Linked DNA regions of Homo sapiens: region 2 is linked to region 1. The links come from fine-mapping of genetic effects on plasma protein levels. A gene starts in region 1. The other region holds a variant in brackets. All regions are shown on one strand. Distances are between the middles of the regions. Region 1 holds the start of PPBP (pro-platelet basic protein). Region 2 overlaps EREG (epiregulin).

The links. PIP is the posterior inclusion probability: the model's chance that the variant is causal. The UK Biobank Pharma Proteomics Project read protein levels with antibody pairs (Olink). The fine-mapping took linkage between variants from a reference panel, not from the people measured, so its PIPs are less certain.
Region 2: its variant is fine-mapped to the plasma level of the PPBP protein (UK Biobank, PIP above 0.99).

The regions. Positions count from the first base shown.
Region 1 is chr4:73,983,379-73,994,817 of GRCh38, reverse strand. PPBP (pro-platelet basic protein) reads left to right here and starts at 6,628. Exons shown (of 3, transcript NM_002704.3): 1 at 6,628-6,862; 2 at 7,166-7,301; 3 at 7,444-8,379. The coding sequence starts at 6,715. The coding sequence ends at 7,546. RefSeq lists enhancers at 8,949-9,461, 9,462-9,975.
Region 2 is chr4:74,382,243-74,398,673 of GRCh38, reverse strand. It overlaps EREG (epiregulin), which reads right to left. Exons shown (of 5, transcript NM_001432.3): 4 at 15,880-16,029; 5 at 9,925-13,947. The coding sequence ends at 13,866. Among named protein-coding and RNA genes, the nearest start is that of EREG, 25 kb to the right of the region's middle. The variant C/T (reference allele first, on the strand shown) is at 7,212.

The DNA of each region.
Region 1 (11,439 bases):
GCAACCTCTGCCTCCCAGTTTCAAGCGACTCTCCCGCCTCAGCCTCCCGAGTACCTGGGAGTACAGGCACCTACCAGCATGCCCAGCTAGTTTTTGTATTTTTGTAGAGATGGGATTTCACCATGTTGGCCAGGGTGGTCTTGAAATCCTGATCTCAGGTCATCAGCCCGCCTCAGCCTCCAAAGTGTTGGGATTACAGGCATGAGCCACCCTGCTCGGTTTTAATTAAATTATAACTTGTTTACCCTCTTTTCTCCTTGTCTAGCAGTAGTCCAACAAGGAGTTTGGCATGCACAATCCTCTCAATCTATAATACCTCCCCTCACTTTTACCAGGGTAGCTACCATCCTTCCTTCTGGAATAGCTTGCCTTTTACTTTCTTGAGGAAACCTCTCCAACCCTTACTCCTACCTTTGAGGAGGACCCTTTTATACCCTCTCATAGCATTCTGTACTTTTCCTTCATGAAGTTTTCTCACCGAAGTTACTGTAGAGTTTATTGAGCCTGTGTGTTTATTGTCATCCGTTTAAGGTCTCTCTGTTCTAGCTTCATGTAAGCCTCATGAGGGCGGGGACAATGCTTATCAACTTCATCTCAGTTCCTAGGACAGTGCCTAGCACATACTAGGTATTCAAAAAGCAAGTGATTTTGGCTAAACAAGTCCCCTTGTCACTCTAAAATTAAAAGAGCAATTTCATTTAAATACATATTCTTAGGTTATACTTAACATTTCCCTATCTAAATGACAAATGAGGTTCTGTCTCATCCCAATCTTGATCAGTACTTCAACTTCCCTTGTCCCTCAAATTTACTATATAAATACCTAAGAATAGGTATTTATATGAAATTGCTCTTTTATGAAACACAAGAAAAGGAAAGAAAGAAGATTAATCATATTAGTATGTATGTACATACATTCACACTCCAGTTGGATTACATTATACATGTTTATATTGGCATGTACTTGTATATATTAGAATAGGCTATGAGTCTTTTTTTTTTTTTTTTTTTTTTTTTGAGACCAAGTCTCACTGTCGCCCAGGCTGGAGTGCAGTGGCATGATCTTGGCTCACTGCAACCTCTGCCTCCCAGGATCAAGTGATTCTCTTGCCTCGGCCTCCAGAGTAGCAGGGACTACAGGTGCGTGCCACCCTGCCCAGCTAATATTTTTGTAGTTTTAGCAGAGATGGGGTTTCACCATGTTGGCCAGGATGGTCTTGATCTCTTGACCTCATGATCTGCCCGCCTCATCCTCCCAAAGTGCTGGGATTACAGGCATAAGCCACCAGAGTCTTTTAAAGAAGCTCTGGAAACAATATACTCTCTGTATATTTTCTGTCAATTACATAGTACCTATCAAAATATATGATGTATTTTCCTTTGTATAAGTATTCATCAATCAAATATTAATTTATTGATATTAATCGATAATCCTGTTACATGCCTATTATCTTTGTAGGATCCTTATGATCTGGAAATTATAAAGATGAGGAACTTTCAGTCTAAGTTAAGGTTTTCTGCTGCAAATATACTCAGTTTTCCCACAGAACAAATATTTTCCAGTAAGAAGAGTGGAAGAAAGGGGAGAAGAGGTGAGGGGAAGAACTAGAAAAGAGAAGACTAGAGGAGACAAGGATGAGAGGAGGAGGGTGTTGGAAGGGACTATGACTTGCCTGTTTTTTCCTTTCTATTTTCTTCCTTCTCTCCTTTTCCTTCTTCTTCTCTTCCCTCCCCTTCCCTTGCCTACTCTCCTTCTCTCCCGCCATTCCTCATTTCTGCTTATTAGTGAGAAGTTAAATAATTATATTTAAAAGAGTAGGAGAAGAACGCAGGTGCCCCAGTAGAAATCACAACCAGCAGCCAACACCAACAACCTCTCATGTGAATTAAGCCATTAAAATGTTGTTTTAAATTATTTTATTATTTTTCTTATTCTTAAGAAAATGTTGTGGGTACATAGTAGCTGTATATATGTATGGGGTACATGAGCTGTTTTGATACAGGCATGCAATGTGAAATAAGCATATTGAGAATTAGGTATCCATCCCCTCAAGCATTTATCCTTTGGGTTACGAACAATCCAGTTACATTCTTTATGAGTTATTTTAAAATGTACAATTAAGTTATTATTGACTATTGTCACCCTATTGTCCCACTCTTTATTTCAGCCATTTCAGCTGCTCTTGACTGCACTCAAGTGAGCTTAGCAGAAGAAACTCACGCTAACATACAGAATTATCAGAAACAATAAATTAATATTTTAAGCCACTAACAATGAGGTCGACTTATTACACAACAAAAGAGGATTAATGGTACTTGTTAACAATGCTCTAGAACATTATGTTAGAATTTCCTTAATGAATGAGCATGTAAGGAAACTAGGTAACTTTCATATATTTGAGATTTAACAAATGATATTAATCAACATAATTTAAAACACAAATTCTGAGTCTGGCAAAACTTTGAAGTATTGTATATAATAGCGCCCAGAAAGATACTTCCCCTCAACTTCTTCACCCTCCCCACTGTCCTCCCATTTTCACCCCATGCTTCACCTCTGGGCAGTAGACAGTAAAACCTCAATTCACATCTGAACAATTCTTGTCAACTCATAGTTATACAGTAAGCACATTTGGTTTCAGCCCTTACAGAAAAACTTTTGATGGCTAGTATTTTAAATTTATTGATTAAGATACTTTAATGAACAGACTCAACATTGTACTATCCTTAGCATTTTTGGTACTAATTGCTTTTATGATTGATTTGCTTGTGCTAGTCTATTTCCTTCATACTTGAAAGAAGGATTTGGGAAATGTGCGTTAAAAATGTTCTGTGTGAGGCAGAGAAGTCATTTATGCCTTAATTTTATAGATAGTGGTCCTCCAATGTCTCTAGATATTTTCTTTTAAAATAGCTAACATAAAATGTGCTTTGAGTCTTAGATAATTTGCTTGCTTCCTTCATGACTCTGCTATTTATAAGATGACTTAAAGAAAAAAGAGCTAAAATAACTTAGCACCCCCCAACACACACATATACAAACCCACAATGACAATGTAAGATTAATAAAAAGGCTGTCAAGTTATTTTAAAAACAAGGAACAAAATAACTCTTCTCTAATTCTAGCATTTATTTAAACAATAATTTTGCATAACAGTATGCTTTTAACTGAATAAGTTTTTAAAAACATCTTTTAACCAGTTTTGTACACTCAGTTTATCATCATCTTTACTGTGTTTCTCAACGTGGAAATGGAAGGGAATGATGCAAATGACAGTAACAGCAATTAACAGCAGCAGTTGTCATCATAGCAGCAAGAGTAGAGTATTTTTCATATCCCATTGCTTTCCACAAATATTTTAGGCCTGACTTTTAAAAAATAAATAATTAAATGACCAAGTCATGCAAAGAGAACTTCGTAAAACCTGTTAGGAAGTTCAGGCTTAATCAACTGATGCTTAATCAATATTTTTTGAGTTAATAAAAACTAGCAAAATATTGTTTTATATCAAATGCTGACTGATATCCTTAAGAAATTTTGATGACTCAAGAAATCTGTTACTACTTCCTCACGAATTTTGCCGACGATGTGTCTTTCGTGACAAGCCACATTTGTTGATTAAGACAATGACTCCATGATACTGGAGTCACCTCTTTCCTGGTATTAACCCACCAGTTGGTTTCCTGGTAGGAAAGAGCCTACCTTTTTCCTGGTATCAACTCACTCAAAAGCATCATTACTTCAGAAAACTTTTCATACAGTTTTCTTAAAACGATTAGGAACTTTTAGGAAATCTTACTAATGAACGAGGAAAGAAATCTGGATAACGTTAAGTAGGGGGAAAAAAGGTGTCCAGTGAAGCCAATAAACATTTTCAGCAATGTATTTTGGTGTTGAACAGAAAATGAAATATACTATGAATAGTGTTAAAAAAAAAACCTTTATATCTTGTTCTGGAAATGGCTTTGATCTTATGTTTGAAAATGTATATGACTTGCGAATTCACAATATCTCAATCTCAATAATGAAGAAAAGCTATAAAGTCACCCCACAGGAGGAAAGAGAAAGAAGTCTGCTCCCCTCATTTTGTGTCCTGCTGAGCTTATCTCTGCAATTAACTCCACATCTCAACTCTCAGAAGACTCCGAACTCTCAGCTTACACCCTTCCTTTAAGCTTGCTTAAGACTAGAAATTTCTATGTTGTGACAGGGAGAAAAATCATTCCAATTAAATATGCTCTACTGCTAAACTCTAATTTAAAGAAAACAATAAATGAGGTGGAGAAAAATAAGAAATACATTCATCAACTGAAACTAAGGCTAGTGAGGCAGAAATAATTTTATACATGTTTATTGAAAGCCAACTGGGAAGACAGACCTGGGAAGACACATCCACAAAGTTGGGGGTGTTCTAGAGTCTTTCACAAGTTACAAGGGCTTTATATAATAGAAAAGCTTAAAATAAGGCAGAAAAACTCCTCATACCAGAGTTGTCTTCTTTTTCATTGGAGGGTACAATACCGAAGTTAAAATCATTAGCTACAGATTACAGCATACAGGCTAAATGTCTACATACAAAACAATCAATAAAACTTTTTGTTTCAGCTAAACTTAGAAATAAATCATTGTCCTATTTAGTGTCAGTAGGTTCTACAGTAATTAGTACATCAATCATTTGAGGAACTCGTAATAAAATACTTTACTCAGAGATAGAATGTCACCATCAAGTCACGAAACCTTTCCAGGGCGAGTTAATTTGGAAGTCTGCTTACTTCTAAAGTAAACTGTCAAATGTGGTCTGTAGGTTATCGCATTTAAAAACAGGACCTGAGAACTTGAGTAGACATAGTAGATAACTATTAAACAATAGGGAAAATTGGCTTGAAAACAAAAACATGATTTAAAAAATTACTATATTCATCTTTTTGATAGAGAGTAATTTTGAACATTTAGTATTTTAAGCATTTCTTCTAAAATTTAAGGATATGAAAAGTAAGAAAAGAATATGGAAAATTTAAATAATATTCTGTGAGACTTATACATAGTTGTAAAAGGAAGAAAACTTGTTGCCAGTGCCACTTACATCTGCCTCTTCTTTATTGACAATCTTCCAAATAAATTTAAATAGCATAGTTGCTTTGGGTCCTGTCGAGTTTGGCCTGGAATTGTAGGTGATTAGAAAGGATAGGGAAGCTTTCATGTGATACGTATTCATTGATTTATTAATTATTTAAGACCTACTTTATATTGAAGTATCCTACATGTTATAGGATACATGAGACATTCAAACAAACACAGGACATGCCACTCCCTACAAAAGTGCATGGTTCAATTGAGGAAGGAAGTCTTACAGATGGGACAGAGAACCAGAAAATAACATAAAGCCAACATGTAATGTGTAGGTCCACCTCTCTATCTTTGTAGGGATATAGCATTTCAGACCAAAACCTTTAATTTGGGTCTGAGAATTCAGGAACAAATATTTTCCTTGGTAAGGACATTTCTTGCACAATTTCTAATAGTGCAAAATTGGAAACACCGTGAAGGGCACCAACAAGGCAAGGTTGAGTAACTATTGTTCTTATCACAGGACGTCACATGGTCATTAAGAAGAATGGGGGAAAACTACATTAAGATGACCTGAAAAGATAAGGAACACATATTTTTTGAAGGATAAAAGTCAGCTGTATAGTGATCCATATACAATACTTCTATGTATATGTGTACCTCTATGTCTTAAACGTGTCTCATTGTATACATATACATGTGTGCATATAAGTGCAGACAGAATTGAAAACTAATGCAAAATTGTTACCAGTGTTTACCACTGAATAGTAGGAATGTGGAGAAATGATGAAGAGAAATTTGTGTTTTATTTCAAAGACATCTGCAGCATACGAATCTTTTGCAATAAATTATATAATTTTTCTGTTAAATTAAAAATAAAAAGAAAAATAAATATGCTGGGTCCTACTTTTTAGGTATTCTTAGGTGGTAGAAACAAGTAGCTTCTTTTGTAATATAAAGGAGGATGAGTTTCATTTGTAGTTTCTAGATGAAATTACAAAAGATAATATAGATTGAAGGCAGAAAGAATCCAATAAGCTAAAATCCAAAGACAACCTTTGACGGTAATTGGCTCTTATTTTACTTACATGCTCCAAACCAATCCCAATATTTATCAACATTCATGAAAAGAACATTTGCTTTCTTTGGCAAGCAAAGATAACTTTCTCTTTCAAGGGCCACATGTTTGTGCCTTCAGGTGCTCCTAAAGTTTCTATTAAGCCTAAAAACTGCAGTATAGAAAAGGCAGGGCGTATTGTTATAAATCATACAAAGAAAATGCATGTAGTATTTCAGTCTAGTTCTTACCTTCCTGAACGGAGTTCTTACACAGGTGTAAGGAAGATAAGTATTGAGAAAGGGAGAGTGGGAATGTGAAGTGATGCACATTAAGCAAGTTAGTAGGAATTTGACCTGTCTGGTCTTTCTCTGGGTTGGGCACAGCTTCAAATGCTTATGTGTGTATCACCACATACCCTCACTTCCTCCTTTCCTACCTCTTCCTTCTTACTGGCTTTGAGAAAGAGCATATAAATGACATCTTCAGGGCATGAGAAGCCACTTATCTGCAGACTTGTAGGCAGCAACTCACCCTCACTCAGAGGTCTTCTGGTTCTGGAAACAACTCTAGCTCAGCCTTCTCCACCATGAGCCTCAGACTTGATACCACCCCTTCCTGTAACAGTGCGAGACCACTTCATGCCTTGCAGGTGCTGCTGCTTCTGTCATTGCTGCTGACTGCTCTGGCTTCCTCCACCAAAGGACAAACTAAGAGAAACTTGGCGAAAGGCAAAGGTAGAGGCCCTGCTTCTCTGCACTTGTTGCTGCTTCTGCTACACCTGTCTCTGGGGTAAAGACTAGCTTGGTGCCTTTGGGGCTGGAGAGGGCCATTATACCAATAACTCCAATTGGAGGAGACACACAGGGGGGTCACTTCTCACTTCTTGTGTGCTGGGCAATCTTCTGGGCACTTTACTAAAGCGTTACAGATCATATTCACAATGGCTTTATGAGAGAGGTACAATTGCCCTCAATCTGCAAATAAGAGACCTGAGGAAAATATTCATGACCACCAATAGGTCACATTTTCTACCCTAGAGGAAAGTCTAGACAGTGACTTGTATGCTGAACTCCGCTGCATGTGTATAAAGACAACCTCTGGAATTCATCCCAAAAACATCCAAAGTTTGGAAGTGATCGGGAAAGGAACCCATTGCAACCAAGTCGAAGTGATGTAAGTTGCTGTTTCTGTGCTATTGCCTTATCAGAGAAACCCTCTACCTCCATCCACATATGCACTCGTTTCCTCCAGTCTCATGGATTAGTTCTGATATTCAGATCAGGACACCCACAGATAACCCTGTTCTCTTTTGCAGAGCCACACTGAAGGATGGGAGGAAAATCTGCCTGGACCCAGATGCTCCCAGAATCAAGAAAATTGTACAGAAAAAATTGGCAGGTGATGAATCTGCTGATTAATTTGTTCTGTTTCTGCCAAACTTCTTTAACTCCCAGGAAGGGTAGAATTTTGAAACCTTGATTTTCTAGAGTTCTCATTTATTCAGGATACCTATTCTTACTGTATTAAAATTTGGATATGTGTTTCATTCTGTCTCAAAAATCACATTTTATTCTGAGAAGGTTGGTTAAAAGATGGCAGAAAGAAGATGAAAATAAATAAGCCTGGTTTCAACCCTCTAATTCTTGCCTAAACATTGGACTGTACTTTGCATTTTTTTCTTTAAAAATTTCTATTCTAACACAACTTGGTTGATTTTTCCTGGTCTACTTTATGGTTATTAGACATACTCATGGGTATTATTAGATTTCATAATGGTCAATGATAATAGGAATTACATGGAGCCCAACAGAGAATATTTGCTCAATACATTTTTGTTAATATATTTAGGAACTTAATGGAGTCTCTCAGTGTCTTAGTCCTAGGATGTCTTATTTAAAATACTCCCTGAAAGTTTATTCTGATGTTTATTTTAGCCATCAAACACTAAAATAATAAATTGGTGAATATGAATCTTATAAACTGTGGTTAGCTGGTTTAAAGTGAATATATTTGCCACTAGTAGAACAAAAATAGATGATGAAAATGAATTAACATATCTACATAGTTATAATTCTATCATTAGAATGAGCCTTATAAATAAGTACAATATAGGACTTCAACCTTACTAGACTCCTAATTCTAAATTCTACTTTTTTCATCAACAGAACTTTCATTCATTTTTTAAACCCTAAAACTTATACCCACACTATTCTTACAAAAATATTCACATGAAATAAAAATTTGCTATTGACTTGTTGTCATCTATTATTAATTTTAACAGGATTGTTGGGGAAAAAAAGCTTTAATTTTCCTCTCTTTTTTGTATACTTGGTATTTCACAGTTTGAACAACAAAAGTTACTAAATTGATGATCGGTGTCATTCTTAATGTAGTATGATAACAGTTCCAATTTATTAATCATTTTAATATGCCAGGAATACTAAGTGTTTTCCATGCATGAACTAAACAATTTTTTAAAAGATAGATATGATCTGGTTAAAAGAACATCCTCTGGAGTTTGAATAATGAGGTAACCTGGCTCTGCCACTTGTTAGCTGTGTATATCAGGTCATGTTGCTTAATTTCTCTGTACCTTAGGTTCTTCATCCCTAAAATGGGGATAATATTGCCTCCCTCATAGAGTTTATGGAAGGATTAAAAAAGTTAATAAATTTAAGGTATTTAAAATAATGTGTGTCATAAATAAGCCACACATAAATGTTAGTAATTATTTCTTATGATTATTATTATCCTCCCCAGTGTTACAGAAGAGAAAAATCAAGTTTATAGAGTTTAAAATACTTGCCCACTTTCAGATAACTAAGTAGGTAACAGAGTGGGAATTTCAAATTGTGCTCTTAACCACCACACCACAGTGCTTTCCTCAACTCTTCTTTCTCTAATGAAGAGATTACATTACATATAACATAGTATTATTCACACATGTAATACAACTTGATACATAAATAGCATACTGTATATACTATAATAATTATAGGGTATCAGGCATCTCACTCATTATGTTTAGTGGTTTCCCACTGAAACTTGACAAGACCAGCTCCTGAGACATGGCACAGTGTTGACACCATGCTTATACCTCCCGAGATGCAGATGTCTTCTGTTTTTGAGTGCATGTATTGAGTTACTCTGTTTACATGCAGAGAAAGAATGATTCAGTTGCCACTCAGGACCACCTGGATTCCTTTACACTGCAAACATTAAAATCTGGGTGTAAGACTGTAAAAACCCAGCGTGTTGCCCATCCATATGCAAAATCATCCCTCCCCTTCATTCTCTCTGCTGTTAACTCAGAAGGGGCTTCAAGTTTCAGGTTCATAAACACATATGAATTACAAAACATTCTGCAACAGCCATTGTGTTGGATACAGGATATTCAAAAATACAGTCATGTTTTGCTTAACAATTGGGATACATTCCGAGAAATGCATCATTAGGTGATTTTGTCATTGTGTGAACATCACAGGGTGTGCTTACACAAACCTAAATGGTATAGCCTACTACAAACCTAGGCTATATAGTACAGCCTATTGCTCCTAGGCTATAAGCCTGTACAGCATGTTACAGTGCTGAATACCATAGGAAGTTGTAACACAATGGTGAATATCTGAGTATCTAAACATCTGTAAATGTAGAAAGATATAGTAAAATTATGGTATAAAAGAGTAAAATGGTACACCTCTGTAGGGCAGTTACCACAAATGGAGCTTGTAGGACTGGAAGTGGCTCTGGATGAGTCGGAGTGTGAGTGGTGAGTGAATGTGAAGGCCTAGGACATGACTGTACACTTCTTTAGGCTTTGTAAACACTGTACACACTTAGGCTACACTAAATTTATAAAAAATATTTTTTCCTCAACAATAAATTAACCTTAGATTACTGTGTTTTTTATTTATAAACTTCTTAATTTTTAAACTTTTTGACTTTCGTAATAACACTTTAAACGCATTGTACAACTGTACAAAAACGTTTTTTCTTTATATCGTCATTTTATAAGCTCGTTTTCTTTTTTATCTAGTTATTTATTTATTTTAGAGAAGAGGTCTTTCTCTGTCACCCACACTGTAGTGCAGTGACATGATCATAGCTCTCTGCAGCTTCAAACTCTTGGGATCAAGTGATCTTCCTTGATCTTCACTAAAGATGTGCACCATCATGCCCAGCTAATTTTTGAAAATTGTTATTGAGAAGGGAACTGATTAGGTACCCAGGATGCTCTCGAACTCCTGGTCTCAAGCGATCCTCCTGCCCCAGCCTCTCAGGCTGGGATTACACTCATGAGCCATAGAGCCTGGCTAATTGTTTTTTGTTTTGTTTTGTATTTTTTATTTTTCACACTTTTCTGTTAAAAATTAAGATGCAAAAACACATATCAGCCTAGGCCTACACGGAGTCAGGATCATCAGTATCACTATCTTCCAGCTCCTTGTTTTGTCCCACTAGAAGCTCTTCATGGGCAATAATATGCATGGAGCTGCCATCTCCTATGACAACAGACAGATGATAACAACTCATACTTCCTGAAGGATCTATCTGAGACTGTTTCACGGTTAATGTTTTTTCTATAACTAGTAGAAAGAGTATATTCTAAAATAATAATAAAAAGTATAGTATAGTAAATACATAAACCAGTAACATAGTTGTTTGTTATTCTTATCAAGTATTGTGTACTATACATAATTTTATGTGCTATACTTTTATAGAACTGGCAGTGAATGGGTTTGTTTACACCAGCATCCCCACAAACATGTCAGTAATACACTGCTTCCTATGACTTTACAACCATGAGGCAATGCGAATCACATCACTAGGCAACAGGAATTTATCAGCTCCATTATAATCTTATGGGACCATTGTCATATATGCAGTCTATTGTTGACCTAAATGTTATGTGCTGCACTACTGTATGTAAGTCACAGAGAATTGCACTTGAAAAGATCACTATGTGGTGGGAGAGGCAGATAAGTAGGCAAATAATTGCAACTATATATTACACATGTTAATATAGAGGTATACTTCAATTGCTTGAAGGAGCAAATACATGGATATGTTAAAACTTCATCATCATCATTTTCAACACATCATCTTCGCTAATGTGGCACTTTGAATTGAGTCTCTACCAGTACACTGAAACAGTGATAAATGTTATAATCTCTGATTTCATAGTGTTTTCCAGTTTAGGAAACAAAACCATTTTTAACACTATGAAATACACACATACACACACACACATACGTATCTCTGTGTAATATATATATATGTGTGTGTGTGTGTGTGTGTGTGTGTTACCTGT
Region 2 (16,431 bases), 400 kb before region 1:
CTGCTGGAGCCCGCAGTGGCAACCCGCTCAGGTCCCCTCCCACGCTGTGGAAGCATTGTTCTTTCACTGTTTGCAATAAATCTTGCTGCTGCTCGCTCTTTGGGTCCACACTGCCTTTATGAGCTACAACACTTACCGCCAAGGTCTGCAGCTTCACTCCTGAGCCAGCGAGACCACGAACCCACCAGAAGGAAGAAACTCCGAACACATCCAAACATCAGAAGGAACAAACTCCAGACACGCCGCCTTTAAGAACTGTAACACTGCGAGGGTCCGCGGCTTCATTCTTGAAGTCAGTGAGACCAAGAACCCACCAATTCCGGACACACTACCTTCCACCTTCCATGGAAGATGCAGGAAGCTGTGTGTTTCCCTAGTTTCTATTGCCCAGGAATACTTCTGATAAAACATTAAGAATGTGTTCCTGAATTCTTACCAAAAACGAAACCAAAACTGTAAAAGCACAACTGGTGTAATTCTGTAAGGAGAAATACAATCACCCCAGATGTAATTTAGAAATAACTAGAAGTGATTTGAACAAATTATTTAAATTTTTTATTTCTCCCAAGTAACCACCAGTTGTGAGGAACTTCTTTCGAAGTAGTAATAACAGATGGTACTTATTGAACATTCAGTATCTGCCAAATGCTGTTCTTAGCATTTTATATGTATTGATTCAGTGAATTCTTATAGTAGCCCTGTAAGGCAGAGTTGCTATAGAGATGAGGAAATGGTGGCACAGAGAGGTTAGGTAACATGCTCAAGGTGCTTAGTCCCTCTCCTGAACTGGCATGAAAGGTCTCTTCTGTTTAATTTATAAACAATGATAGAACAAATATTGATAGTTCATAGTGATAAAAATAAATAAACCTTTAGGAAAAGCTCTTCCTTACAGTAGAACCCCAAATAACAAATGTAGAAGAAATGATCAAATAGGAAAAACATCAATATGGAAACTAGTGGGTGAAATTTAAATGAGAAACAGTATATTTACATGGTCCAAAAATATCTCCCCACAAATTAGTTATTAATTATAAAGGGCAAAATAGTAAATTTATAGTGGATAAATCTAATAAATGTCATCTTAACAAAATGATCAATCTTAATATCATAAACATTAGGATAAATTGATATCCTGGGGTTCACAATATAAAGTATTCTGAGGGACACACTATTACTTCCAATATGTTCCCTCCAAAGATACATAATCTGATTTTAATTATTAACCAACATCAGAGAAATACAAAATGTGGGACAATTTGGAACAGAGTTGTAATCTTTACAAATATCTAGATCAAGAAGTCCAAAGAAATGCTGAGGAGCTGTTCAATGAAAAAGGAAATTAAAGAGATTGACAACAAAATGCAACCTGTGATCTTGGATTGAATTCTGAATGAAAAAAAAAAAAGAAATAATCATAAAGGACATTATTAGGATAATTTAAATTTGAGTTAATATGGAATCAATGTCAGATAAAAGTATTCAATGTTTAATTTCCTGATTTTGACAACTTGACTATGGTTTTATAAGAGAATATCCTTATTCTTAGGAAATAATCACTGAAGTATTCAGAGGCAGAGCTTTGCAATATCTGTAACTTTTCTCAAATTGTTCAGAGAGGGAGAAGGAATGATGAAGCAAGTAGGGTGAAAAGCTCATAGGATAACTTATGATTGAATCATTTGCCAAGTTATCCTGTAGATATTAATATAGATATATTTTTTATTTTGTTACTTAAACTTAAAAAATAATTGCTGGGAGTTATATCAAACACAAAATTTGCTTATTCTTAGCTTTGGTTTAGTAATTTCACTTTAGGGACTTATTCTAAGGAAATAATATAAAAGAGGCACAATTTTGTTACAAGGGTATTCATCAAAACTTATATGCAACTGCGGAAAACTGAAAACAACTCACACATCCAATAATAGAGTGTTGTTTTAGGATTATGCAGTCATGGCCGGGTGTGGTGGCTCACACCTGTAATCTCTGCACTTTGGGAGGCCAAGGCAGGCAAATCACGAGGTCAGGAGTTCAAGACCAGCCTGGCCAACATGATGAAACCCTGTCTCTGCTAAAAATACAAAAAATTAGCTGGGCGTAGTGGCGGGCACCTGTAATCCCAGCTACTCAGGAGGCTGAGGCAGGAGAATCACTTGAATTTGGGAGGTGGAGGTTGCAGTGAGCTGAGATCACGCCACTGCACTCCAGCCCGGGCGACAGAGTAAGACTCCATCTCAAAAAATATATATATATTATATACATATATAAAATATATATTATATATGATATATATATAATATAATACATGATATATAAAATATATATTATATATATATCATATATATAATGGAGTGATTAAAATGCTGCAGAATAATATTTAATGGCATGGAAAATGTCATTGTTAAGTGATAAAGACAAGATACACAATGGTACCCACAGAATGACCCCATTACTGTGTATACATACCCACAGTCACACGCATGAAAGATTGCAAAACTATAAATGAAAATGTTCATAGTGGTAATTTTAACATGTAAGGGAAAAAAGGTAACTTAAACTTACTTAACACTACTTTGAAAATTTGCTAAAACAAACTTATTATTTTGTAATTAAAACAAATAATTTTCTGTAGTCTAGCGTATGACTTAAAGAGGTATAAGTAGCCATAAATTTAAATGAAACTGTGAGCTTCTTATTAGATGTGTGCACATATGTAAACACCCACACCTTTATTACATGCTATAACTGGCTTCCAGTGACACAAGATCCTGCTACTGAGGTTGGTGAATGACATTGAAGCCTGACCCCTAAACTTGTCCTTTGGTGGAACGTACACCCAGGAAATCTCTTTTCCATAGTTGTAAACAGATGCATGACTGTTTTAAAGGGCCATGACCTCGTGGATTTGTTTCCTGGGAAAGTATCCCAAGCCTGAAACCAAGTGCTGCACATTCTCAAAAGAAAATGTAATAAGGTTGATTAGAATCTGTGGAAGAGGTGCAGTTCTTATATGCTAAATTTGCATTTTCTCTATGTAAAAGCTTTCAAAATAATTCAATTACTTATTTTATAATTTAATTTCCAAGGTTAATTCCTTACATGTATTTTATGACCTAAATTTTACAGGGTGGGCCTAGATTCAGAAACTCTTTCTGTTACAGTCTTTGTTTTAAGCCTTTTTACAACCTAGGTTGGTGCTAAGGAGGAATGACGAATTGCTATTAGTGTATTAATAATAAACATTGAATTCTTCTATTAACTACCAAAGAATAACAAAGGACCAGAAAACAAACACATACTAACTACTGGAGATTGCCCCCAACCTAACGAATACCACAGTGGAGATTCTCATATTAAGGATAACAAATTGTTACCCCTGAAACGTCAGCTAAGATTTGTATCCATTAGCCCAAAACCTCCTACTCATGATTTCTAAATTATACAACATTATCGACAGGTCCAGGAGACATCGTGTGCATTGCGGAAGAATGAATTTTCAATATAGCTAATGTGTATGTTCTTCAATTCAGATTTCTGTTCCATAGCCCCACCCATGTATAAAAAGGCCCTACCCACTGATAAGGGACATATTCATATTCCCACAGCCAGATTCTCCCACTCTAATCAAGACTGCATCTAATGTAAGCACATGACTCACTCACATTGGTCCCTTTCCTGAAACTCAGGGTGAGAGCCAACTCTCAGCTATCTGTGGTTGGAGTGACAGAGGTGACTGGAAGAAGCGAAAACCACTGGTATTCCCAACTTCCGTTTTAACTGATAATCTTAACCTCCTCCCTGATGTCAACTCTCCTTTACTAAAGATTGTAATGAACACAGAAAGGGCCCAAGAAAAAAGGACAAGGCCTGCTAATTCTAAAACTATATAATCAACAACTGAACAATTGAGGGCTTGTCACTTCCATTTTCTTTCATGGCTAATATTCTAAATAAGTACTCTCTACCAACAGCCGCCACCAACTCCCTTAATCTAGTGCAATTCTGCCTCCACTTTCATCACTCACTAAAAGCACTCTCTTTCAAGCTTCATGACATTCAGAGGTCAAAACCAGGGGCGTTTTTCTTCTTTCCCATTGTTTTCTAGATTTTTTTTTGTTAGACCGTGTTGACTATCACTGTAAATCTTGGATTTTTTTTTCTTTCTTCTGAGTTTCATGCCATTATGTTCTCCTAGATGTCCTGGTTATAACCATCAGCAAATCCTATTGATTTAAGTATAGTCTACTTATACTCCTAATTCAACACTTTCTCATTACTTCCACTACTGCTATCTTTCCCCTAACCATTTAGGTGGGTTATTAAAATACTCCCCACCTTATCTTTCAGTCTTGTCCTTTTTAGTCTACTTTCGGCAGAGCAGATAGACTGATCTTTTTGAATTATTTCATCACCCTACCTCCAGCCCTCTGATAGTTTCTTTTATTTATTTATTTATTTATTTATTTTGATTATACTTTAAGTTTTAGGGTACATGTGCACAACGTGCAGGTTTGTTACATATGTATACATGTGCCATGTTGGTGTGCTGCACCCATTAACTCGTCATTTAGCATTAGGTATATCTCCTAACGCTATCCCTCCCCCCTCCCCCCATCCCACAACAGTCCCCGGTGTGTGATGTTCCCCTTCCTGTGTTCATGTGTTCTCATTGTTCAATTCCCACCTATGTTCTTATTGCATTGTTAAGAAAAGGCAAAGACCTTACCAAATCTTATAGCCCCTAAAGTTTCTACCCTTGACTACCTCTCTGACTTCTCTTGCAACTGTCCATTGAGTATGCCCTGGGCCAGGCTGGTCTTACTGTCTTCTGAACATTAGAGTCCTTGCATTTATTGCTCCAAGCCAAGGATAGTTTGCCTCCACAAACTGTAGGGATGCCTCCTTGACCACCCTAGCTAAAGACACCCTGAAATTGTAGCATGTTATGTTTTACTACCTTATTTTATCACTAACCATGAGACCTTGGACATGTTACCCTGTGTCTCAATTTCCCCATCTGAAAAATGCATTTTAAATAAATAGTTACATACCTCATCAAGTGGTTAGAAGGATTTCATAAGTTATTGTATTTGAAAAGCTTAACAACAAATAGCCCTATACACGTTTGCAACTGTTGTTGTTATTAGTATTTATTTTCTTTCTTTTCCTGCTAGAATATAAATTTCAAGTTTTGTTTGTCATTTATCACTTATTCTCAAGATGTAAACAGTAAGACACATAATAAGCCCTCAATAAGTATTTGAATGATTGAATGAAGAAATTAAACGTTTAATTATTTGTTTTGTCTGCAAAATCTTCTTTTCTTTTACCCATTCCTTAGATAAAGTTTCTTTTATCACTTTACTGAGACTCAGTCACTGGTTTTCTTGGCATTTTTCCTCTACCCTCATACCTTTGGAGTGTTTAACTTGAAGTGATTCTTTGGCTTCAGCCATGGTTTCTGTGATGGGGGTTCTCAACATCACAGCTTTAGTCCAGACCGCATACCCAACTTCTGCATTGGGGGTTCATCTAAGGGGAGGGAAATTTGGCCTGGGGCTTAGAGGCTGCACTAGGATAGTGTATGAGTTCTGTGACTTTACTTGCTTTGTGATCTGGTGCAAATCACAACTTCTCTGGAGACCATATTCTTTTTTAGGTAATAATTATGAATCTTACCTTCTATATCAAAGTGTGTGTCGAAACAGATTTAATAGATGTGAAAGTATTTTGTAAATTGTAAAACAGTAAGTAATTTTGAAGTGTTGTCAGGTACCTCAAATATGCTATTTCTACTATATACCCTGCTGTTATCTTAGAGTCAACATATGGAAACCATTTTTCCTCCTTCCTAAACTCAATTCTTTCCAACTTTGCTTTCTCTCATTTCTCATATCCAATTACTAAACACCTGATTTTCCCTCTGTGACATATCTAAAATGCTCCTCCTGCTCTGTTCTCCCAGACATAATCCTAGTCTCAACTTTCTTCAGTTTACATCTAGGTCATTACAACACTCCATTAGTAGGTCTCTCTGCCTCCTGCCTCTCTCAAGTAGTGTTCTCAAATAATCTCATTTCAATCTTTCCAAAAAATTAACCATATTAGATTTCTTTTAATATCAACAAACTGCTATGATTTCAGTGACTTAAAACAATAGAATTTATTATCTTACAATTCAGAAGTCTAATAGATACCTGGGCTAAAGGAAGGTGTTGACACTGGGTGAAAATCGAGGTGTTGGCAGGGCTACATTCTGTTCTGAATAATATAGGGGAGAGTCTATTTTCTTGTCTTTACAAACTTTCATAGGCCACCAGTGTTTCTTGGCTTGGAACCCTCTTCCTTTGTCAGCAACTGTGAGTCAGGTCCTTCCTTTTCACATCACATCTCTCTGATGACAACTTGGAATGACTCTGTACTTTTGAGAACTCATGTGATTAGATTGGGCCTACCCATTTAATCCACAATCACCTCCTCATCTCAAGATCTGTAACCTTAATCATCAGTCATGTCCCTTTTACCATGGAAGGTAACATATTCATAGGTTCTGAGGATTAGAACACAGATATCTTTTGAGGTGAGGGGTATTGTTCTGCCTACCACACCAATTTATGGTGTCATTCCTCTGATTAAAAACTATAAATGATTCTCAATGGTCCATAAATGTAAAGCTTATCTTTTTCTTACATCTTTACTGAGCCTTCAAACTAAATTTGTAACTATTCTCAAATATAGATCCTCTGCTACTGTCAGGATAGTCTCCCTGACACATCGTAAACATGCTATGCTTTTTGTTAGTGTTTTTGCTGATTATTCTCCCATTTGAAATGTCCTACAATCTCTCCTTTGCTTATATCAAAGTCCTGTCATTTTTTCAAAGTCCAATTAAAGTCCTACCTCTTCAGTGAAACTTCCCCTCTCGAAGTTACCTTTCTCTAAATTATTTTGTATGATACTATCTACTACATATGGTGGACTTCTGCTATTTGTCTTTTCAGAATTTATTCATTCTTCTGGTAATAGCATTTTATTTTTCTTTGGGGGATTTTTTTTTCTTATTAGATACAGACTTTTGCTTTTCTCAGCTAAAGTGCCCTTCTTTGGCCAGGGGTGTACTCATATTCTCAGTTAGACAGTCATATGCTGTCTTCTTAGACCATGAGCTCCCAAGAAGTAAAATGGTTGGAATACACAACTTCTAGAAA[C/T]AACACACTGCTACCTAAATCACTAGAACTGTCCTGTTTTTTAGCTTTTACTCTAATTCTATTGACTGTCTCATATCTTTCCTATAAATGTTTTAGTTTCACCAGAATTGGTTTTTTCCCCTAAAAATCAAGAAACCCTAACTATTAAAGCCTCCACTGTTCTTTAAATGTTCTCATAACTTTGAATCTCTCTTCTAAGTTTTTTGCAAATGATAGTATATTTTATACTCTTTTGAATATTCCACAACCGTTTGCAAATTACTAGACACAGAAAAGCTTTTCAATAAATATTGATTAATTCATAAAGCACTGTTTTTATTATTTTTTAAGAATGCAGATTGTTTCTGATAGTAACTTGAAGGTCAGAAACATGACACATACTTCTTTGGAACACATCCTGCCATCCCCAGAAGAAGGGATGGTGCTGAGAATAATAGAAAAATCATTGATTCATAGATTAATTGGAAAGGTCATCATTGGTCAACAATATATGATTGTATTTTTATGTATATTTCATAACATCTGCTAGTATAACCAATCCCTTATCTGTTCTGTATCACTTAGTCACTTAGTCACATGTTCTCCATTCATTTAGCATGTAATGGATCCACGTACATTATCTGCATTAAATGAGCGTAAGTTTTGCTTATTTTCTTAATAGGTACTTTGCCCTACAAGCTAATAAGAAAATTATGGAAGTCTTTTCCCAAGTATTTCTCTGAAATTTAGATAAACTGAGCAGAGTATCTGTGTTTGATTTTGTATGACAGATAGTTAGCATTAGTGGGTGACCAGACAGGATATTTAAAAGTGATCCATGTTTTATGTCTTTTCTTAATGAATTCATGTTGGAACTTAATGAACAGCACATATATTTCATGTTTTATGACTGTTTAGGGAAAAATATGTTCTAGAATTGATCAGAGTCAAATTCAGTGCTTATAATTTTATCCTTTTGAAGACTCTGATATTCTGTTTAACTCCAGTTTCTTGGAATCTTTTTCCTCCCTCTGCATAATCTCTTCAAAATGACCAATTCTGCCACCATTGTAAAAGTTTAGGTTATTTCTCTCTGAAATCACTTGAAGATGAGTAATTTAGCAATTCCCAGAGAGAGAGATAGCAGGTTTTTGGTCTGAGATAAAAGAAAGATTGAGTTGAATTTTATTGAAATAGTAACTATATTGAAGAAACGTTTATAGGGGAATATTAGTTATTGATCGTGTCACCTTTGAATGCCTAGTGAATATGTAAGTGGAGATGTTAGGTAATCGGACACAGATATCTGGAACTCATGGCAAATATCTAGACTGGGAGAAATCAGTATATAGACAGCAATTAAAGATATGAAACTGTATGAAATGAAGTAGGGAGTGGCTATATGGAGAGAAAAATTACAATATTGAGCTCTGGGGCACTCTATTTTTGATAGGTCCATGGTAGAGAATAGGGAAATATTGAGGAAGATCTAGCTAAAGACTGAGAAGCAGGTAGAAAAGCAGATGAGTGTGATATCCTGGAAACCAAGAGAAAAAAAAGTGTTTCTAAGAGTTCTCTTCCTTAATCTTCTGGATTCTCAGACCTTGAACAAAATCAGTGTAATGATTCAATGACAATTCAAAGATTCTATTTTACAAGAATTTCTATTTCTCCCAAGAAAACTCTAAACTAGATCTGAGACTAACTCCTTATAATCTTCCTCTGCCTCTGACATGGCCCGAACATCAGTGGAATTAGGAGTGAGAAGACCTGAATTCTCATGACACCTCCACCTATTGCCAGTGGTGTGACCCAGGACAATTGCTTAACCTCCCTGTCAAAGGGTTGAAGCCATAGGTCCCTTCCCCAGCTGCAAGCTAATGAAGGATCCAAGGAGCTAAGGAATGGAGCAAGTACTCTGTAGGCTGCTGAATAAGTATACCAAGGAAGCCATCCATCACTGTGATGAAGGGTGGGAAGAATCAAGCTTGTCTGCTCTAAAGGCTCAGGGGAGCCAAGCCTCTTTGCAGAGGCTGAGAGAATCATAAGGCACCATTCTGGCTGATGAATCTTTTCAAATGCTACTTCCCAATAGGATATCTATTCTTTTTAGAAATACTCTTTTAAAATACTCTTTAAAATATTATTTTAAAAAATACTAACCCCAGGCTGGGCATGGTGGCTCATGCCTGTAATCCCAGCACTTTGGGAGGCGGAGGCGGGAAGATCACAAGGTCATGAGTTTGAGACCAGTCTGGCCAACATGGTGAAACCCTGTCTCTACTAAAAATACAAAAATTAGCCGGGCATGGTGGCACGTGACTGTAGTCCTAGCTACCCGGGAGGCTGAGGCAGGAGAATCGCTTGAACCCAGGAGGCGGAGGTTGTGGTGAGCCGAGATCGTGCCGCTGCATTCCTGCCTGGGCAATAGAGTGAGACTCCATCTCAAAATCAATCAATCAATCAATCAATCAATCAATCCTAACTCCTAGGATTTTTAAATACCAACACCTAGAATTTTATAACTAATGTGGCTCCTTCTATTACAAGAAATTCTTCACTATGCTGGCTATAAAACGTGATACATTTATAGAATGTTTTCCCAAATTAACACCATTGAGTCATTATGTCTACACACATTATATCCCTGTCACTGCTTTTAAACCCTTTAATGTATTGTGGGGAAAAAATTGCAAAAGAAAAAAAAAGAATGAGGCTGCATTGTCAGTGAAGATTTTGAATGCAAGATGTTCAATGCATTTTTATTTATTTCAATTTTTTTCAATTCCCAAGAAAAATAAATAAAAATTAATAATATCTTGTAAATTATCTATTTTCTCCTTCAATATCTTAAGGTACACAATTATCAAAGCTGATATTGAACACAAACAAATTGATACAATTCAGTAATCCGATAACATTCATAGTCAAATAAGTTACTTCAAATTGCATGCAATACAACTTTATGTTCCATAGCATCTTTAATAAAAACCGTTTACCAAAATGGCTCTTCAAACTTAAAAAGTGCAATTACAGAGTGCAAAATAAAAAGAAAATACATTATATTACATTTAACATCATCAAATTTGAATAACAGATATTTAAATGAAATTACTCTTTTTAAAAACATTAAAATATACACCAGAAATACTGTTTGTACAAGTCATTACTCCCCCTTCTCCCATATGAACAAGAATTTTTTAACGGTCAGAATATATTGGGCATCAAATTAAAAACTTTTTTTTCAAAAGTCTACAGAATGGATATTGGAGCAAAAATTACAAAGTGGGTCAGATACAGGTTTTTAAAAACTGCATTACTGAATTTAACAAAAGTCAGACACTAGAATCATATATTTGCTGCATAAAAGTTGATTTGATACCTGGTGGTGATTGAATTTAGTCTCAAAGACTCATAAATAAAAATCTGACTTAAGACGTAGTCATACCAGTATACCAATTCTCCCATCACTTTGACTTTCGGCAGAGAGATTAGAGCAAAAAATATTCAGGAGAACAGTGGAGTTACATTGTATTATGTATGTTTAATATAATATCAATTTTAAGGTTAAGGTTAAGGAAATCTTAATTTTAAGGTTAAACCTTGAGTACTAGTTATAGAACTTAATATTCCTGGTTAAAGAGTAAGTTAACTGGGTTATTATGTGGCCTTGGTTGAAGACCATAAATTATGCATTTATGCATTTGTGGTTGCTTTGGTTCTCAATACATTGAATATGCATAGCCCCTTCTAGAAATATATATAGTGAGAAATCTGTAAAATGGGGGAGTTAGACTAAGTGTGAACTAAAATCTTCCCACTGTGTACAGGACACATCAGCTGAGAGCAAATCAGTTTTTATGTTTACTCAGCACCATCCTCACTAAAACTATTATTTTTGTCTTATTTTCACCCATAAAAAGTAATGTGGGTCATACTTTATTATTTAATATGCATTTACAAAGATCTAACTATTTTAGGGATTAGCTTTTTTAAGCATTCTTAAAGATGAAAAATACAAAAATGACTTGTTTTTATGAATTGACATGCTTAAGATAAACTGACAAACCAAGATTGAGATGCTTACAATAAATCTTTTGTAAATGAAATAAATGGATTGCAGCTGATTTATTGAAAAGTCAATAGATTTTTTTGAAACAGCCAAGATCACTGAAAATATTCAGACTCTCCTCACATCTAGTAAGCGTTAATAAATACAGTTGTACCTTGGTATCCACAGGGGACTGATTCCCAGATCGCCCCCCTGCACATACTAAAATCGGGCACAGATGTTCAAGTCACTTATATAAAAGGGCATAGTGCTTGCATATAACCTATTCACATCCTCCTGTATACTTAAATCATCTTTACATTACTTGTAATACCTAATGTAAATGCTACGTGCGGTGGCTCACACCTGTAATCCCAGCAGTTTGGGAGGCTGTGGAGGGTGGATCTCAAGGTTAGGAGATTGAGACCATCCTGGCCAACATGGTGAAACCCCGCCTCTACTAAAAATACAAAAATTAGCTGGGCATGGTGGCATGCGCCTGTAGTCCCAGCTGCTCAGGAGGCTGAGGCAGGAGGATCTCTTGAACCCGGGAGGTGAGGTTGCAGTGAGCCGAGATCGTGCCACTGCACTCCAACCTGGGCAACAGAGCGAGACTCCATCTCAAAAAGAAAAAAAAAAAAGTAAATAGTTGTTATAATGTATTTTTTGTTGTTGTTGTATTATTTTTTAAGCATTTTCCGTCCTTGGTTGGTTGAATCCACAGATGTGGAACTAACCACAGAGGGCCAACTGTAAGTAGAGTATTTAAAATGTGTTCTTACATATTTTGACTTCAGCTGTATTAAATAGGAAACAGAAATAACTGTTTAGATCTAATTGATTTTTCTTTTCTCTTGTTTTTAAGTTTTATATAAATGGTTAGCAGAGCACCAAATGACTGCAATTCTATGATCCATTAAGGTCATGTATACATACATGTTTGTATATGAATATATATACAATATGTATATGACCATATATATTTACTTGTTTTTGTCTGTTTATTTTCCTAATAGTAAGGGCCAGGGCCAGGACTTTAGATGACAGTCGTGTGATTGCACCAGGGTATATAATGCATGGATACACATGGAGACAAGTCCTGGCACCTGGTGCTCCAGAGGTCAGCCATGGCTTATTATGCCTTCGTTTACCCTAGCACATGCCAGGATAAACGTAGAGGAAGAACAGATCCTCCCTGACCTGGTATGTGATCCAGGGAGACTCTACTCAAAGGTTTAGCATTCGATGAAGGAGCCTCCCATAAAATCCAAAAGTGGTGGCAGCAGTGGCTCCTTATGCAATAGCCCAAAAATACTCCTATTAACTCTCTGAGACCTATGGGCTCAGAGTGCAGAAGAAATCTTTGTCTCTTCCAAAAAATAAACAAATGTCAGGAAAATGAGCCCTAGTTTTCATCTCAGCCTCCACAGGAAGGTGTGTTTAAGTTTCTACATTTTAAAAGCTTTCAATTGAGATTTTTCATTTGGAAAAATACACCATATTAATTTTTAAGTTTTTTCCCATTTCCTGTGTCAAGATACAACTTTAAATACATAACTTTACATTCTAGAAGAAGCCATTTACTGAGCTGTATTAAAGTTAAAACTTCCTTGAATAAAAGATGAAATAACTGTATTTCCATCTTAAGACAACATGTAGAATTATTGTCTTCATATATTTTAAAATAATAATTAGTCCATCAAATTTTGGGCTGTGATTTAATGTTAGAATTCAGCAAAGCCCCTATAAAAAGAAATAGTCTAAAAATATTCTTAAAAAGCACAAATTTAGGCTTCAAGTGTGGACTTTTTTCTAATTGTCTGTTGAGCAATAATTACCTCACATAAATGTTGTAATATACAAAAAAGGAACATTGTGAAGCTATGAAATGCCCACTACTTAAATAAAAGATTACAGAAAATTGTTTTTCAATTCATTTTACATAGGCAGAATCTGGTAGATGAGTGACTAGTACCTGTAGGAGTCGTGAGTTGGCATAGGGAACTGTCCACTGCCCCTCATATAACAGAATTATAGCTGAGACCTGAGTGAAGAGACCATAGACTCCCCAGGGTTAGCTTGTTTCAAATGTGTAGTGTTTAACACAGGACCTATATTTGCTTCTCCCAAATTCTAATTGCATTATTGTTTTAATATATGATACCATGGTGCCAACTACATATCAAACCATGGTACAGTCAAACCAATTATCACTGATTTGAGGAACATAAAAAACATACTTACTAAATCGATTTGACTATATATATAGGCTTACAGAAATCTGTCATTTGCTAACAATTCTTGAGCTATGACCTGGGAATTGCTTACTTCTAAGCACTGTGCACCAGGCATATAAACTTTGAAGCTTTCAATGAAGCATTTAGCTCAGGAAATTACTTGTATAAAAATATCAATTTTCTTTTGATATTAAATATTTTCTGCACATTATACATTAGCAAATAGTCTGTCAAAAATAAAACAAAAATAAAAACATTTTTCAAGTACATTAAAATACAGTGTTATTGACCTAACACTTGACCCAACATAAATATTATTAATAAAATGGGAATATTAATATTAACCAGGCACACTGTTATCCCTGCCCATAAGTTTGATGGCGCCATTCAGACTTGCGGCAACTCTGGATCCCCTGAGGTAACTCTCTCATATTCCTTCTTTGGTTCTTTACTTTTTCGATTTCTGTACCTGGAAATATTCACAAACGAAACTGTTAGCACTGCAGTTAATAGCAAAGGAACAAGTGTGTTATATATGGACTCCAAAGGCACATTAGCATAGTGTTTCCAAAATGACAAAGTTGAACAGATTTAGGTTGGACAATGTTAAAAAAAAAAAAAAAAAGAGGGATGAAGAGGTGATGTGCTGTAGTCAAACAATTTTGGAATGAAATGATAAAATACACTTAAAGAGTTTCTCAAAGTCTTTAACGTGATCATGAATATTGTGAAATTCCAAGAGGCGTGTGGCCACATTTAAGTCTGAATTTTAGGTTTTCTTTTTCTGTCTCTCTTTCTTTTTCCTTCCTCCCTTCTAAGGAATGAATATTTACAAATCATGCTACATTAATACACTCTTTCCATCACATTGATATAATGCTATCACTAATCAAAATAAAAATAATATTTATCAGGCACTAATTTGGTGACCTACAATTTTCTAAGTGCTATACATGCATTATTTATTTTACTCTCACATTTGCTGTTACCATCCTCATCTTACAGATGAAGAAAGTGAAATACAAATGGGTTGTATATAATGTGCCCAAGGTCCAAGGTCTCATAGCTAGGATTCATAGATTTATCATAATTTAGAATCTTCTTTCATTTATTCATTAAGCTATTTTCCTAATATTTTTGAGTTTATTTTGTCCCTATTTTGGAAATAAGACATGTAGCTTTGAGGAAACCACATCATGTCTATGTTTACTGTAAGAATATGAATTAGAAAGAATTTGTTCTTCACTCTGGCATTTGTCAACTATATGAGCTGGGATATTTGAATGAACCTCTCTAAACCTCAGTGCCCCATCTATAAAGGAAAGGATTGTGGTCAAAGATTTGCAGGCATATTTCAGTTTTAATAATATTTAGTTCTGTCATGGCAACTTATTAGGAAGGCATTATTATTTGATGGATACTTAGAATCAAATGTGGACAAAATAAATTTAATATTATGAAAGTAGCACACTTTCAGACCTTCAAAATTGGAAGTGCACTACTTTCACAGAAAAATAAAAACGTAAATTCACCTTGAGTAATTTGTAACTGTTTCAAAATATGTTTCATGGAGACATTTTAAAGGGAACTGTTATTAATTAATTCACACTGTTCCCATCCTTTGCTCCTAACCCTTAAAAAAATGCCAAACTATACTTTCAATGTTCACTTTCTATTTTTCTGTTTTCAGCTTGTGACAATAATGCACATGAGGATGAGGTACGACTGTTTTGGGGGACTGACACAAACTATTTTTTAACAACCATTTTTTATAATTGTCTAGAAATAGTTCCACCAGTCTGCCTTAAACTGTAAGATAACCCAAGCTTCTAAGGTTATTAATTTACAAGGTTGTTTTTTATAAAATAAAAAATGTGACTTGAGGAATTAAATTCAGGTGGTTAACTATAACAGTAGCACCTATCCTATGATTTACTTTCACATGAAATATCATATTACATACTAAAAGCAACCACCCTATAACTAATGTAAGATAATAATTTCTGTCCATATTTGATAAAGAAGGGAATTGATACTCTCAATTTGACTTATGTAAGGTCACATAGGTAATAAGTATCAGAGCTGATAATAAAGTTCAATCCAGATGTTCTGCAGCAAAAACATATTTTTAAAAAATAATTTCAAGTTATTTCAGATTCGGGGGTACACATGCAGGTTTCTTAACAGGATATATTGTATGATGCTGAGATTAGGGGTACAGCTGATCCCATCACTCAGGTGTTGGGCATAATACTTAATAGTTTCTCAACTCTTGTAAATATCATTTGTACAGGTTTGATCTTATCTCTCTAATACTTTATCCATATTTTTACCCAGTTTATAGGTCTGCATTATGTAAAAGTAATTTGTAAAAGCAGAGTATAAAACCACACTGACTTACCATCTGCAGAAATAATATGTGGAACCGACGACTGTGATAAGAAACAAAATAATAAGAATCACGGTCAAAGCCACATATTCTTTGCTTAAAGGTTGGTGGACGGTTAAAAAGAAGTGTTCACATCGGACACCAGTATAACCCACTTCACACCTGAAGGAAAATACGGAAGAAAGAAAGATCAGTTACTTAAAAAGGAAATCATGGTTATGAATTAGTTTTATAAGGACTAACATCACACTGTAATGCAAGAAATCAACAAAATTTGCTAAAGATTGTAAAGAGGATTTCAAAGATTGAGTTAGACCAGTAATGATAAAAGGGCTCCACGTAGCTCTTGGACTAAATTGTAGTATTAAAATGACGGTTGTGTTCAGCTGTCATGGTGGCTGACAGTCCACAGTGGTGTTTTGTAAGTTGTACAGGTTTGAGATTCCTTTTGTCTAAATCAGTGGAATCAATTCTTTTTTTGTTTGTTTGTCTGTTTGGTTTTTTTGAGATGGAGTCTCGTTCTGTCGCCCAGGCTGGATAGCAGTGGTGTGATCTCTCGGCTCA